Regions from separate parts of the Homo sapiens genome. Here region 1 is linked to region 2. Evidence: fine-mapped expression QTL. A gene starts in region 2. The other region holds a variant in brackets. All regions are shown on one strand. Distances are between the middles of the regions.

The links. PIP is the estimated chance that this variant, and not a neighbour inherited with it, causes the effect.
Region 1: its variant is fine-mapped to the expression of ARHGEF12 in whole blood (TOPMed, PIP above 0.99).

What each region holds. Positions count from the first base shown.
Region 1 is chr11:120,298,858-120,307,192 of GRCh38, reverse strand. It overlaps POU2F3 (POU class 2 homeobox 3), which reads right to left. Exons shown (of 13, transcript NM_014352.4): 5 at 7,467-7,569; 6 at 4,825-4,907; 7 at 1,981-2,163; 8 at 1,408-1,549. Among named protein-coding and RNA genes, the nearest start is that of TLCD5, 22 kb to the left of the region's middle. RefSeq lists enhancers at 1-415, 980-1,497. The variant C/G (reference allele first, on the strand shown) is at 5,065.
Region 2 is chr11:120,332,041-120,340,375 of GRCh38, reverse strand. ARHGEF12 (Rho guanine nucleotide exchange factor 12) reads right to left here and starts at 3,963. Exons shown (of 41, transcript NM_015313.3): 1 at 3,101-3,963. The coding sequence starts at 3,132. It overlaps TLCD5 (TLC domain containing 5), which reads right to left. Exons shown (of 3, transcript NM_001198671.2): 3 at 6,690-8,335. RefSeq lists a silencer at 3,507-4,376.

The DNA of each region.
Region 1 (8,335 bases), 33 kb after region 2:
GGGTCACAGCTGAGGGATGCTCATGCATCGGTGACACATGTGGGTGTAAGGGGGCACTGGCAGGGCTCCTGTGAGTAATGCTCGTGAGGCTGCTGTTTACAGATATGCCTGGATGTGAATACTGAGTGAAATGTGAAATGAGATTTGCAGCCAAAAGCAATGGCACTTGGTGACAGACTGTTGGTGTTGGAGTCATTTTCCTGCCAGTGCAAATGTTTGAGCTAAGGCTGTAGGGGCCATAGGAGGGATATCCCTGAGGAAGGATTCAGGCATCTGATGGAGACTAGGAATGGTCACAGGGCCCTTCCCCAGAGATTCGAAGACCTTCGGATCATTTCGCTCATTTCAGTGCTTCCATAAAGGCTGTCTAAGGGACAGCCTGTAGGGGGAGCTTCCTGCCCCCTCCCATGCTTGCGTGTGGAGGCCCTTCCGTATGAGTAACAGCCCTGGCTGGCTGCCCCACCCTTTTCTCCCTCTCCAGTGTAACCACGAATCCATATGAATCGACTGAATAGAGCCCAGCCCTGGAGACTGGCTCACTCCCTCTCTCTGCCTAGGCCGGCAGTTCTCAACCGGGGGGGACTCTGCATCACCACCACTCCCCCTGGGACATTTGGCAATGTCTGGAGAGATTCTTGGCTGTTTCAACTGGGGGTGGATGCTACTGGCAACTAGTAGGTAGGGACCAGGGATGCTCAAAACATCCTGCAATGCATAGGCCAGTCCCTGGTAACAAGAATGACCTGGCCCAGGATGTCTATAGTGCCAAGGTTGAGAAGCCCCATCCTGTATGCTAGTCCCTGCTGCCAAATGTGAGGTCCCTTGGCTTACACGCTTGATCTCCTGGGTTGCCTCCCGGCCACCACCCCTCACTGAGTCCTCCTGCAAACCCCATTCCTGCTGTCAGGCTTTCCTGACCAGCATGGGTTGCAGTAAGTCCCTGTCTGCTGAAAACCTCCTCAAGAACTACCCAGGGAAAGACCCTGTGTCGTGCCTGTGGTCTCCCCCTCCCAGTGAGACCCTAGAGGCCCCACTGCCCTGTATCCCTGACTAGACTTATTCCAGACAGCAATCTGCATAAGTGTATCTGCTCTGCAGATCCAGACTTTGTTGCTGGCAAGCTGTCCTAAGATCTATGCTGGGTGGGATGGGGTAGGAATGGAATGGGGACAAATCCTGATGGACACAGACCTAAATCCACATCCTTCTGAGGGCTTCTCAGTAGTCGAGCTGACACTTTCATCTACACTTGCCTGTGTCCTGTGTCTTGTTTCTCCATCGGCTCCAGTCTCAGGAGAAGAAGGGGGTGTTAGGTATCAAACTCCCAAAAGCCCCAACACGACAAGTCACTGGCCCTTCCCTGCAGAGCCCTCTAGGGCCCCTGGCATCCGTGTTTGCGAGGCCTACCTGCATCATTCAGCCACTTCTCCAGCAGGGGCTTGAGCTTGCACATGTTCTTGAAGCTCAGGTTGAGGGCCTCAAATCGTGAGATGGTGGTCTGGCTGAAGTCGTTGCCATACAGCTTTCCCATCGCCAGCCCCACATCTCCCTAAGCGTGGGGACCGAGGGGGAGGAACATGAGAGGCAGCCTCCTCCTCTTGTTTGCCCACATCCTGCATGGTCCTAGCATCGATCACACAGCCAGCCTGAATCTTTGAGTGCTCACCCATGCTCGGCTCCTTTCCAAGTCTCCTCCCTCTAAGGTGAAGAATCGGTTTCTTTCTCTCCTTAGACTCTCAGTGGACCACGCCCACGTGCTCAGGAGAGCCAGCCCCTTTTCCACCTCTCATTCTCCTCCACCAGCAACGTCCTCAGTTTCCCTACCAATGGCAACTGTGCCCTATTCTCAGAGAACTCAGGGACATGATGAGGAGACCCCAAACACATCGAGCCTCTGGTCGCTCTTGAAACCTGCACTTGGGAAGCCCAGTCTCCAGCCGCTCGGCTAGACTTCTTCTATCTTTTCCCCTAAAACCAAACCTGTGTGAAGCCCAGCTTAATGCGCCTCTGCTTGAAGGTCTTGGCAAACTTCTCCAGCTCCTCGAGGTCACTGGGCTCATCGGCCCCTCCAGAGCTGGGTAGATGCTTGGGCACTGGGAGATGCTGGGATGCTTCCAGGTGGGGTTCTAAAGAGGATCCTGGCAGCCCAGGGTGCCCAAATGCCTGATAGGAAACACGCCAAGCAGATCCACCACGAAGATCAATAAATAACATTTTCTGATTTTTTTTTTTTTTTTTTTTTTTTTTTTTACTAATAGGCCCACTTAGAGGATGACAGATCCCTGGATACACCCTGGGTACATTGGAGTCTTATATTTTTCCAGTGGCATGGAAGTGGAAATTAAAGTTTCTATAAATGTATAGCAAATAACTGGAATATCTGGGTAGAAACATCAGGAGTGCAGGATAGGGAGGTGGCCTGAGTTTAGCCTGTGACTCACTTTTTGAGTCTTAGCAGGTTACTTCCTCCTTTCAGTTTTCTACCATAAAAGGAGCTAGCAGGGTTGTTTACAAAGATTCCAAAAACAAATCACAGAACTGGACAAAGAAAAGGTTGCTTGCTTTGTTTTTTTGTTTTTTGTTTTTTTCCATAAAGCAGGTAACTGAGGTGTTGAACAGGCATTAACTGAAGATAACAGGGGACATCCAATAACTCATGGCCTTCATAGAACTTTCCTAAAATGTCAAACTCTTGTGCCTCATTTTACTTTCTAAACCACCATTTTCTTTCATGAAAGTGTTTTGTTTTTAATCAAAGGTATTTTAATCAGTACCTTTATAAAATGCACCTTGATCACATTTGGGTTGCTAGGAGATATTCTTTCTTTCTCTCTTTTTCTTCTTCTTCTTCTTTTTTTTTTTGAATCAGGATCTCACTCTGTCACCCAGGCTAGAGTGTAGTGGCACAATCACTGCTCACTGCAGCGTCAACCTCCTGGGCTTAAGTCATTCTCCTGCCTCAGGCTCCTGAACAGCTGGGGCTACAGGCGTGTGCCACCACACCTGGCTAACTTTTGTTTTTTTAGAGACAGGGCTTCACCATGTTGCCCAAGCTGGTCTCAAACTCCTGGGCTCAAGTGATCTACCTGCTTTGGCCTCCCAAAGTGCTGGGACTACAAGTATGAGCCACCGTGCCCAGCCAAATATTATTTCTTGAGCTTATTTTCATAGGAAAACGTACCCTTAAACCTAGAACCATGCTGTGCCTATTTGGGGTCAGGAATGAATCCGATCTTAAGGACATCTATCATTCCACAAGGATAGAGTGGAATCTGGGCCTAGGGGTCCAGGCACTGTGGCCAGCTAGCTCAAAGGGCTAAATCCACCTCTTCTCTCCTTTTTGATTTACTTTTTGTAGACTAAACATTACTTCTTCTCCTCTGGGATATTTGGGTTTACCATTCAGATAGGTATCCTTATGATGAAGAAGGTAAAAGGACCTCTAGAGAGAAGTTTAGGAGTCTTTCCCCCAGTGAAGGGTCTTTTAGTCTGAAACCATCATGAATTTGGTCTTAGTTTGCAGGGAGAGGGTGTGTGAGGAGAGTGTGGCATAGACCAGACCCTCAGGACAAAGCCCCAGTCCTCTTTGAACCTTCCTTTTCATTAAATCATTTGTTCTTTCATTTGACAAAGACTTATGGGGCTCTCTGCTAGACCTTCTCCCTCCTCCTTTCATCTCCAATCCACTGGCAAACTGCACTGATTCAACTTCCCAAAGCATCTCCTCAATCATCCCCTCTTCTTATTGCCACAACTCTAAGCCAATCCTTTATGACCCCTCCCCTGGATGATCTTCATAATCTTCTATGTGGTCTCTCTGCTACCAGTCTCTCCATGCCAAAATATGATAAGAGATGAGAGTTGATCTTGAAGATTCTAAGATCTCTTCCAGCTGTAAGCCCATGGCTATGAGATTCTGGAGAGGGCAGCCAGGAGGAGGCGGAAGAGCAGCTTATGATGCTGGTGTCCCCATTTCAACCACTAGATGGCGAGCTTCCCCTCCAGGTACTTTTAGTGGCCTCAGCCCTCTCTGAAGGCCGGGCTCTTGGTGAGCCATGGGGATCTTAGCACAGAGATCTCTGCAGTCATTCCCAACCATTCTGCCCAACCATCTGTGCAGAGCCATCTCATGCAGCTGTGCAGGTTATTAACTGTACAGGGGCACCCAGATCAGGGGAGGAATGGCAGCTAAGATACAGCTCATGCTGCTGTCGCCAATCTGTCCACCTTGGCATGAGACTGCACCTGGCCAGAAGAGGTGCCTTTTTCCTAGTTGGAAAAAAGGTGCTGTGTGGAACCATGGCAGCTCTGCAAACAACCCCTCTCCCAGACCTCAGCCCACTGGCCTATATACGTGCCCACTGCAGGAGGCAATCTGGAATAGTGGCCCAGAGGTGAAAGACACTGGCTTTGTGGTCTGGGACATCAGGTCTGTAGTATTCTAGTCTCCCTCTTGGGGCTTGAGAGCACCTAGGTAGGGTTCGTGGCCATCTTGGTATGCCTGAGAAGTGAGCTGAGCCTGGCTCTCAGAGGAGCAATGCTGGGGCCTGTGCAGGGTTGGAGTTCAGTGCCTGGAGCATGAAGGAGGCTGGCCTGGGAGCTGGAATCTCTGGATTCTAACTGTGGCCCCACCAGTGACACTTGGTAAATTGTCCCCCCACTTGCTGTAGCTTGGATTTCCCCTGTGCCAATGGATAGTTCCCTGCTATCCCCTCTCCCCAGAGGGGTTAGTGCCCTGTTAAAGGGGTAGGGGGAAACCAGTGAGTTAAACTCAGTGAGAGCTGAGACATTCCTAGAGGAAACAGGAAGAATGGGGTTGTTTACCTGGGATGCCAGTCCCGGCCCAGTCTGTGGGAGGAGGAGACCGCTTTGTTGCTGTGGAAAGGGGAGGAGATTTGGCTGCAGACCTGGGTGAAAGGGGAGGGACAAAGGAACAGACAAATAAAATCCAGGCTATTTGAAACACATGTGCTACAACTTTGGCACCACGATCACTGTCCCCACCCCCTGCCACCTGATCAGGTCCCTCCACCCACCTCAAGTCCCATGGAGAGGCCCTCCTAG[C/G]ACTGCCAGGCATTGCCACATACAGGTGGAGGCAAATCAGATACAGGGATAAACAGACATGTAAACAGCAGTCCCCAAACCAGTCCTTCCACCTGCCCGCCTGTCTGGAGAGGCGTAGAGGCTAAGGAGGGTCAAGACGATCTACTCTGGGATCTGATTACCAGAGCTGAAGAAAACCAAGAAGGGAAAGGATGCAGGGTGGCTGCTGAGAATTCAAGCTAGGGCTGAGGATTTTGGCTTTCCCTGCAGGAGAAGTAGCTGGGTTATGGCTACAGAGGCCCAATCAAATCTGCGAGGATGCCAGACCAAGCAGATACGACCATACGGCTCTAAAGGGCAGTGGGCCTTAGCCAGAGGCATGTGGCTGACCAGGACATTTTATACTTGGGAGAGAGGGCTGAGAGAGGAGGGAAAGTCCAGGGCTGAGCCTCTGGAAACTCCCTTGGGCAGTATGTATTATACCGGCTTCTCCATCCTCCCCAGGAAAACGGTACATGAGGGACTCTGCCTGGTTGGTGGCTCACTCTCCCAGCAGGAGTGGGGCCATCAAACCACCAAAGCAGACAATGGGGTTGGTCATCCCAATCGCTTGTCACTCAACAGCACTTTGGGGTCTCTGTTTTCCCTAGGCTGTTCTGGGTCACAATGTACATACAGCATCTGCTGATGTTGACCTTTATGCTCTTCAGTTTCAAAAAGTCAGGGCTTCATTGTTCATTATTAAAATACATAGGCAAGAAAGCTCTTACAAGGAATCCAGAACTGGGAGTTGAGAGGCTTGGGTACTAATGGCAATTCTGACATGGCGGTTGAAATGGATACAGCCTTTTCACATGCATTATTTCAAGTGACTCTCAATAATCTCATGAGGCAGAGCCTTGCTATTATCCCATTTTTTCAGAAGAGGAAATGGAAGCTCAGAGAGGTTAGGTAACTTTCCCCAAAACACACAGTTAGTAAGTGACTTTTTAAAGAAACCAGTAAATTTTTCTGACTCCAAATTTGGAAGTGTCTTTCCACCACTGCATCATACACTGACCTAGGTGGTTATAAGCCTGGGCCATTTTCATGTCGCTCTCCAGTCTTCTGAAAACAAATTAAACTGTTACCTTCCCTTTTCCATTCCAGGAGTATGATGTTTATTTTTTAACCAAAATAAACACTTAAAAATTCAAATAGGGTCTCATTCATCACCATAATATTCTGAGGTGCCTTGGAAACTAAGGATAGTGACTGTCATTTGTGCAGGTGCTAAGGGCGGAAGGCAGAGTTGCATTTTGTTTGGATTCTGGATTTCCAAAACCTCTACTTGGGATTTGTGCAACAGGAGAGAGTTTATACTTCCTCCATTATTTTTTTTTTTCAGAGACAGAGTTTTGCTCTGTCGCCCAGGCTGGAGGACAGTGGTGCAATCTTGGCTCACTGCAACCTCTGCCTCCCAGGTTCCGGTGATTTTCTTGCCTCAACCTCCTGAGTAGCTGGGATTACAGGCATGCACCACCACACCCGGCAAATTTTTGTATTTTTAGTGGAGACAGAGTTTTACCATGTTGGCCAGGCTGGTCTCGAACTTCTGGCCTCAAGTGATCCGTCCACCTCGGCCTCCCAAAGTGCTGGGATTACAGGCGTGAGCCACCGAGCCTGGCCAACCCTCCATCACTTTTGACCCTAGCTGATGGAGATGGGAGTGGGACAGGCAGCACACTGTGATGACCAAGAGTATGGGTCTCAGCTAAACGGTTCTGGAACTTCCCAGTAGGTCACCAGAGGCATAATAGAACTACCTACTTTACAAGGTTATTTTGAGGAATGTCAGAAAAATTACTCAGAAGAGCTCCTGGCACATCATGCTCAAGAAATGTTAGCTATTTATTAATAGTTCAATCTATTTGCTCTTGGCCAGGGAGAAGTTCTCTGCGAGTAACTTCCCTGCCAAAGAAAACCTGAACACCCTTTCTACAACCTGTGGGTGGCACTGCTGCTCTCTCCAAATAGAATCACAGCCAGGCTTCCAGGAAGCAAGTCTGAATCTGTGTCCAGGAGAGATTTCCAAGGAATTGGGACTTGTCTGTACTGCATTTCCCAGGGCGCTTCCCCTCCCTTGTACAGCATAGCTCTGCTCCACGCCTGCACCTTCCGTCTCCACTCACCACGAAATTGAGGAGGTGGACCAGACCACCCAACAGGAGGCTGGGAAGGGGAAGCAGAGAAGGAGACTAAGCCTGGAGGAGCATTGCCAGGGTCCCTTCCTCAGACCCTGGGGTGGATAAGTAGGTCTTAATAGCAGATGGGTGACTGACTGACGCATGCTCTCCAATTAGGCCCCCTCACCCAGCAAAAAACAGCAGCAACAGCAGCACTTGACTGGACTTGGTCTAGGTGGAAACCCCCAGGGTTCTTACCTTGCTGCCCAGGCTGGGTCTGAGATAGCAGGAACTGGGATACAGACTGTAAGTGGCCGGGAACCAGCACAAGCTGCTGGAGCGGATGGAGGGAAGCCATGTCCTACACACGGAGAGATACACATACACCACAGAATTTACAAGCTGGGGACATCAGCCCCATCTGCCTGCCACTCGTCCGTCCCAGGGGTCTCCAGACTCAGAGACTTTGCAGGCTGACCTTGGTTTATGCCACTGTGTATCCCCAGTGTCTAGCAAATAGTAGCTACTCCGTTAACACTGGTATTGTTACAGCTTCTGCCCTCAGCCTAGGAGTCCTTACTACATATTGTTACTTAACCCTTGCCTCCTGAGTTAATTTTTGTATGTGTCAGTCCTGTCTCCCAACTAGACTATAAAATGCCCTGAAGGCAAAGCCTGGGTATGACCCATCTCTCAAAGTTTATCCTAGAGATAACATGCAATCCCCAACTATCCAATTCTTTTTAAATCTCATGCCACCTGGTTATGCTAAAAGCCATGCCTCGGCTGTTTCCTGGGCCAGAATCTTTCCTGGAGGGTGTTGGGGTGGGAGTTGGGGGGTGGAGCAAACTATTCATTCTTAATAAAACCAATTTAGTTAAACAAAAAGTCCAGGATTTCTCCTACCAGCCCAGGACATAGGACTAATAATTCCGATGCTTGGGGGATCGGGGAGTCCTCTGCAATGGAGACGCCAGAGCTCTGTGCCCCATGAGGTTGAGCTTAGGTTTGTGCACATAGAGAAGACCTGAGAAGCCCTGCTAAATGGCAGGTGAAGGGACAGATGCATATTCTTATGTGTTTCCAGAAAGGGGTGGCTCTTTCTCCCCCAGGTGATCCCTGCTGAG
Region 2 (8,335 bases):
TCCATTTATTTCAAGGAAGAACCCTATAACTTTCCTACCTGTACTGTCCCTGAAAATTCAATGTTATAGACACTGGCCTGAAATCATTTACTGAGTCTACTAAAAGGGCATTCTCTCCTGTCTACCTCTCAGAAGAAATTCCAATTGCTATAGGACCCCTAAATTCTCAGGGATACAAGAAAGACATGTAGGAGGATTGGAAACGATTAGGATGTATTTTAAGACTGAATGCAGCAATCAATGCAGACTAAAAAGCAGCAATCAGACATTTCTACACTTGTCAAGTGCTCATTCTAAACGATGAAAACTACAGACTCCAGGGCTCATAAATTGCTTACCATTTTTTTTAAAGCTGTTTGGATATACTACATAGAAGTAATAGCTACCATGAACATAGTTTGAGTTTAAAGTCTTTTAAAAAGTTTGAGTTTTAGGTTTTAAGGGGTGCGGACTGGGGAGTAAAAGATGAAGGGAAAGAGAAGAGAGCAAGTTAATGTGTTGATTTAACTGCAAAATAATAACAGGATGTAACAGAGTTCTGAGTATCCAAAGTGACCAATCAGAGCCTAAACATAGCTGAATTCCATCCCAGCCCCAGCACGTCCCTAACACAAGAATAAAACCCTTATCTTGTTCAGCCATGTGTCGCCTGCCACAAACTGCAAAACAGAACAACGCCCAAAACCAGCTAGTCTGATTTCAACTGAGGACAGACAGACTCTGTAGTCAGAAGCACCACAATGAAAGAACTCTAACTCACACAGCTGGCCTGGTGGTTCTGCACACTCTACGAAACAAAGCCATACCACATACAGCACTTCAAACTTGAAAGGATCTCTATCTAAAAAGCTACACTGGTGCTGTTAATTTTCCAACAGTTCTAGAGTCAGCAAAATATACCTACAGTAAGAGTTAGACACTACGAAAAAAGGATGAGGTAGGGCTGACAGAAAGCTAGAAACTATTATATACTCGTAACTTTGTTAAGACACCTTGGCAGAGAAATAATACTAAACCAGTACCTCCAGATTTCACCCCAACATATATTCATATTAGGAACAACTACTCTCTTAACAGCAAATGGATGCTTTATATTTACAAAATATATTTAAATGTGGTCAAATAAGAATAATTCTTAATAAAAAAAGACCCTAGTAAAAAAAAATCCTACGAAACAGGTCTCAGCAGTGCTTATTAATTGGCTTTCCAAGGTCTTTTCTTTAAAAAAAAAAAATGTAAAATTAGGCAGCAGCACCTGAACCAGTTCAAAAAACATTAATGCCCAAACCAATTTGCAGATTAATCTTACAATATTCATTTTGTAATCTCTTGTGCCTGCACAGTGCCTGGCCAAAAAAAAAAAAAAAAAAGAAAAAGAAAAGAAACAGGCTTTCAGTAATTTCATATTTATTGAATGTTTATATGCCATCTACGTTATAAAGAGGATACAAATTCCAAGATTCTATTTCCAAGATAACGAGAAGACAAGGAAAATCCCTGAGAAGCAATGCTGAAGAAAAACCATTACTTGAGGGCTTTTCACTCACTTGTGTGTGGAATGAGTCCGTTCTGTTTCCATAAATTAAACACCTCAGCATCGCAATGAAAACCAACATTACATTAGTTCCTAGCAAGACTTTTGTTTACAGGCTCAACAGAAAGAGCGAGAATTGAATGAAGCAGGAAAACAATTATCCCCACACCCGTAAAAGTGATTTCTCAGAAGCAAAACACCCTGAAAGGAAAAAAATGGGGATAACCAGAAGAAAGTAAGATAAGCATTGTCAATACTTATCTTAAGTGTATTCTTGGAAAAGTTAAAAATTATTTCATTGAAAATGAAAACCCACTTTGAAAAATACACAAAGAGTAAATATAAATACTTTAAATATTTAACAGACTCTTTTAAGTGAACATTCATGTGATGCTGGAAAGCATCAACAGGAAGAGGAAGTTCTGTTTCTGGAGTAGCTGTTATGGTATGATAATGGAATTTGGCCCTTTTAAAATCAACAAATGAGTCTTACAATTGGGTAAAACTCTTATTAGGAAATTAAGACTACTTTGTGCAGAAGCACTATTGTTGCACTTTTCATCAAAGAGCTTTGGCCCTCTAATTCAGTTACTTGATCTATTTTTTCACGGTGTAATAATTCGAAGACTGACTTAAAAATAAAGCAAGCTGACAAATTTGGGACTAGCATGCAGTGTCATAATTAAATTGAGAATGAAATGTGGTCAAGGAATCAATATGCTTTTTATCCCTTACCCTATAAACAAGAGTAACTTAGGATAAGCAAACTGCACTTCAACCACACATGGTCTAGCTCAATTCGCCACCCACCACCATGCAACACTGGTAGGTGCTATAAAGGACAGACACAGAACTCAACAAATTCAGCTGCGCGCTTACACTATGCTTACGGCTTATATCTCTTAAACGCCAAGTGTTTCTGGAAGACGAAATATTTAAATACAAGAATTAAAAGCAAACCCCATGATTTACCCTCATTTCTTCAGCTCCTGGACATTGCTTCCAGCAAGAACCTGTGATTTACTGGTAATGTCAACATTCTGGAAAGTTATTAGATAATAATTAAACACCGTGCAGGTCAACATCTGAAAGAGATCAAGTTCCCAGATCACCATGCAGTAGGCTCAACATTAAGTTCACAGGTAGAAATTCCTAAAATGTAATTGTCTTGAGAATCTACTGCAGGACACGGCTAAAGCTGATAAATAATACACCAATACCGAGCCGACTTCAGGCACCGACCTTCACCTAAAATGACCTTCTCCTCTGATTTCCAGACGAGTACACAATCCTAATGCACACTACAGGCGGAAAACCACAATCATGGTTTTGCCTCCCCCTTCTCTGAGAATCGGAAGGGAAGTTTCTCTCCGGAAAAATTACATTTCCAAAAGCCAATCAACTGGATAACTCGGCAGCAACCCCAGGCTAACTGCACAGCTCCGAAACAACCCTCTTTCCTCTGCCTGTCAACTTCGCTGGCCAAAGGCAATCTGCAATCACCGACTCCCCTGCTAGGTCGGGCCCGATTCCGGGAGGCCGAACGAAGGAGGAATTCATACCAACCTGTCGGTGATAGTAGACTGTGTGCCACTCATTGGGGCCCTTGGCGAGAGGTCCTCCTTTTATCCAACTTGCATTTTACAGTAACACCTCCTCCCCACCCCCAGTGCTCTGGGATCAGGCCCAACTCCGTCAGGGACACAAAAGTCCAACTCAAAACTCCATTCAGTCATCTAGACCATCCGACTGTAAGGGGTCAACGGATGCGGCTTGGAGCAAAACAAGTTATCTCCCAAAACGAACTGAGAAAGCCAGGGAGCGAGTCAGTCCAGAGTGAGTCGAGCTAGAGAGAAATCCTCCAGAAGGCACAAGGATAAACTTCCTCAGAGAGGGAAATCCGCGCGCAGTGGGAAGGGGACCCGGGACTCCCGCCGGGGCTGGGGCGGGATCAGCTCACGGACGGGTGTCGGCTCCTCCTCCGGAGTCTCGGGGCCTCGAACTCCCCGCCGCGGCAAGGGCCGGGGCCCTCCCTCCCGGCTCTCTATCTGGGGCTGCCGGCTGCTCGTGGCCGCAGCGTTGGCCGCGTCTCCGGCCGTCCCGCGCCGGGCTCGCGCGATTCCATGTCCCGGGCCCGGGGCTCCTTCTGTGCTCGCCGCCCTCACCAGGCTCCCGGTGCTGGGACGAGCCGCTGGCGCCGGCGGAGAGGTCCCGCGGCCCGAGGTGACAGGGACCCGGGTCTCTCAGCGCCGCGGACTGCTCCCCATCCCTTTGAGGCCCGGACTCTTCCGCAATCGCCAGAGGCGGCGGCTCCTCCCCGACGCTCCCCGCGAGGGGCGGGAGATGCCCGTCCGGCCCGGCCTGGAAGCCCTGGTCCGGGAGGCGGAGGCGGCGGCGTCTCCCGGCGCAGGGCCGGCTCGCCGGGTTCTGGAGGCCCTCGCGGGCGCGCGCGCAGACAGCGGAGGAGGCCGGCGGCCGTGGGGGCCGCGCAACCGCGGGCGCGCGCGCGGGTTCCGGTTCCGGTTCTGGTTTCCCGGCCCTGGCCGCGTCCGGCGCGAGCTCGCGCTTCCCGTCCCCCGCCGACTTTATGGCCCCCTCCCCTCTGACTTCGGGAAGCCGCCTCACCCGGGATCCCTCCGCCGCTCAGGGCCGCGCTCTCGCCCTTGAACGGACGCCTCCGCCGGAGCCCGGTTTGGGAGAGCGGCAAAGTAGTCCTACGGGGCAGAGGGAGGTGGGACCCGTGCAGCCCCGGGAGGCCCACCCACCTCCCGCGGCGCCTGGGCCCCTGAGTGCCGAGACATGCCCCTTCGAGTCCAGTTTGTACTAAGTCGACTTTCACCAGAGACCGCCCGAGAGCGCCCCCCAGATCCCGAGGACATCGTGCCGGGAGGCTCTTTGAAAATTACCAGCCCCCCTTGTCCTGGAAACTTTTATTACTTAAGGGAATGTATTATCTCTCCTGTCTTCTGGCTGCACGCGTTCTGCCGGTTCCCGGCCGGCGCCCCTCGCTGCCTCCGCAGGCCCCGCTCACCTGGGCACCTGCCGGCTCCGGGGGGAGAGCGCTGCATGAGCCGGAGGCGCAGGGCTGCGGGAGAGCAGCTGGGGACTGCAGCCAGGGTTTCTCGGTATAAATATTACTTTTAGGCTGTTTCTGCCTTGGCAAAATGAAATGTGTTATTTGCCAAATTGATAAAGCATGGTGCTTTCCATGGCGACTTAACAAGCGTGTTGTGGAAAGAACTGGGAGAAGAAAATGAAGTATATTTATCCAGTAAATAGCATTACGGTTCTCTCTGAAGGATTCCCAAACGGTTTTTCGGTTTTTTCCCCTACTGGGTAGAGAGCTTTAGATACCCATCTAGTTTTATGATTGAATAATTCAGTATTTTGGCAATTTAGGTACCACATGTAATACAGTTCTTCAGTTCTGCCTGCAAACATCCAAAGTGGCTATTCCCTTTATCCAACTATTTTCAGACTTTTGAGCTTAAACCTATGTTGGTGACAAGGGATTTCAGCCATTTTGTGGAATCCAAGTAGCAAATCAAATCTAATAAACAGTGGATGTGGAGAGAGGAAACAATTACCTCTTAACAATGCTGTTGCAAAAAGTCATTCCGCAACAGTTCATGAAAGGATCATTATCCCCGAATAGAGGCATGAGCTCACGCTGACGTTAGTTAGAACGGGGGGGAAAAAAAGGAAAAGATAAACAGAGACCAGAGACGACTCTTTATTGCTCGATTTTTTAGGTTCAAGGCACAGCCAACTAATTTTGTAATGTTTATTTTTGGAAAGAATAGAAGCAGATTAGCCAAGGCACTTCCCTAATGATGAGACCAGGACACATTGCCACCTGCTGGTGTATTCTAGCATGACAATTCTACCCTGAAGACTCTTAAATTGAGTGTTTACATGCAACCGGAAGGAATCCCATTCATATATATATATATATATATATATATATATATATATATACACACACACACACATATACACATATACACACATATATACATATATACACATATATATACATATATATACACATATATATACACACATATATACATATATATACTGACCAAAATGCAAACCTTATCCCCAAACTTAATAAATCTTTCTTAAAAGTACTAAATATCTTATTTTCCCCTATCCTAATAATGTTACAGTGTAAGTATAAAATTAATTGAACCCAATGACTCATCAAATCATGCATTTTGGAGTTCCTCTCTTCCCTTAATACTTGAGGGAAGCCTCAATACTTAAGCTTCAGGAATAAAACAAACTGGGAAAGTTTCCTAATTCACCTTCTCTTCCTTGCATACAAAACCTCTTGGCAAGCTGCTTTCAAGATCTTTCCAAACTTAAACAGACCCACGGTTCTAGCTGTGAGCAAAGAAGGCATTTTGCTGTGGGAAAGCTTCAGAAGATGGTAAGCAAAAGATTGAATTAAGCCAGTGGTTATTCATTCCAGAACTAATTTTTTTAAATGATGAAAATCTCTATAGTCACCTACAAAGCATTAATGATTTAAAAAAAAAAAAAACTGAAAGCCTCTTTAAAGCTGCCGATAGCTCAACTGTTCTAAAGGCTGTAACTATAGGATGCCTTCAGAAAGTCAAGCCAGTCTGGGTAGAACACACTCCTCAGGGTCCGTAGTACTTTACTTAGAAAAATGACATTGATGACCCAATCCACTGGGAAAACCTTTGAGGAGGTTTTCCAATGGGGATGATTCTAAACCACATTCTCATCCTCTTGTCCATTCTTTCAACATGCTTACTAAGTATCTACTATGCATCCCAGACTGTTTTAGGCATTGGTAGTACAGTCCTCAAGACAGGGCCTCCAGCTGTCTTCAGATGATGTCTCTGATGTCAACTCACTTGACATCAACATTTTCAAGACAAGTGTCCAAACAGGTGGCAGAACAAGAAACACATTAAGGTTCTTCCTCTCTCTTTTGGCAAACTGTTTTGTGTATGTCAACTGTTACCCCCCAAAATAAAAAAAAATAGGGGGAATGATGGATAATGAACAGCAGATTAGAGATATTCACTAGTAAGTATGAATACAGGTCAACATTTCTACAGGTCAAAAGGCTTTTTTTAACTTCTTGGCAAAACCACCACATAAATATAAAGACAGACTCTGGGTTTATAAAAAGTTGTTTTACTTTTATAAAATTTAGTACAAATCTTATGGAAATATAAATCGTTCTTGAACAGTGTTCGTTATCATTACACAGTAATCCAGTGCAAATGAGTACTTCATTTTGTCCAAGTATACCACACATTAATTAGCCCTTCATTTACCTGTGGTTTCAGAACTTAGCATTGTCTTAACTGCTGAGTCATCTTCAGTTCACATTGTTCTCTCAGAAGTTTTTTCATAGTTATTAGTAACAACATCAAGAAAAGCTGAAATGAGGGATTCCCTTCCCCTTACCAATTATTCAGATTTCTCACCATTCAAAAAAACCTACATACAGTTCCATGAAAGTGTCCCCAAAACAACAAGATCTGCAGTCCCTTCACTTCTGAGGAGTAAGAGAGAAAAAGAATTGGTACCAGATTAAGCCTGTTCATTTGTCTGGTATGGAACAGGTTGCACTGTGCCAAAATTCAAGAGCCAGCTTTTTTTCTTTTTTTTAAGCTCATGTGCCAGGCCACTCTTTTCTACAAGCTTTTGCTAAAATCAGCATTCCCCAGCATCCTACTTTGACCGCAATTTTGTTGGAAAGAAGCTTACCAGCATTTTAGGGGCGCTCATCATAGAAAAAAAAAAAGTGGAGATTAAGAAAAAAAACAGGAAGTGGAGATGCTGTCAGATTATCTCAATGCCCAGCAAAACTCTTTAACCAAATGACATTCATTTTTAAAGACCCACTGTTAACATGCATTTAAAGTTACTGTTTCCCTAACAGTGATGACTTTATACCATTCCAACCACTCCCTCATACCTGGTTTCTGTGGCCAAGACCATTTTTCATTTTCAAGACCGCTCATGGCTGGGCACGGTGGCTCACACCTGTAATCCCAGCACTTTGGGAGGCCGAGGCGGGTGGGTCATGAAGTCAGGAGTTCAAGACCAGCCTGGCCAACATGGTGAAACCCCGTCTCTACTAAAAATACAAAAAGTAGCCAGGCATGGTGGCACACGCCTGTAGTCCCAGCTACTCGGGAGGCTGAGGCAGGAGAATCACTTGAACACAGAAGGCGGAGGTTGCAGTGAGTTGAGATCACACCACTGCACTCCAGCCTGGGCGACAGAGCAAGACTCTGTCTCAAACAACAACAACAACAACAACAACAACAAAAGACACCATTCATTACGTTAGATTACCAGTGGCCATGGAATGGACTGATGCTTCCTACTGACCAGCCTTGACTCCAGTAGCACCATATGCTTGCTCACCCACTGAGCTAATCAAACACCATTGACTTCAATAACATGGTAAAAATAAATAATCAATAAATACATAAATACTTCATATTTCCATAAAAGCCCTACATTAAAGACCTCCATTAATAAAATGCCACATAATGTATTTATGAAATATACTACAGGGTATTTCATTCATTCACAATAGGTTTAAACTCAGGCAAAGAAGAAACAAGTAACCTATCCAAAGTGAGTGAGTAGCTCTCCAAAGTGGCAAGTGAGTAGCAAAATTAGTTAAAAGAACCCAGGAATTCTGGATTCTTAACCCCTTGTTCTAAGCTTATATTCTTGCTTCTCTTGGAGACTGTCACACTAAGAATTATTATTTTTTTCCTTCCAAGACTGGCCTTGTTT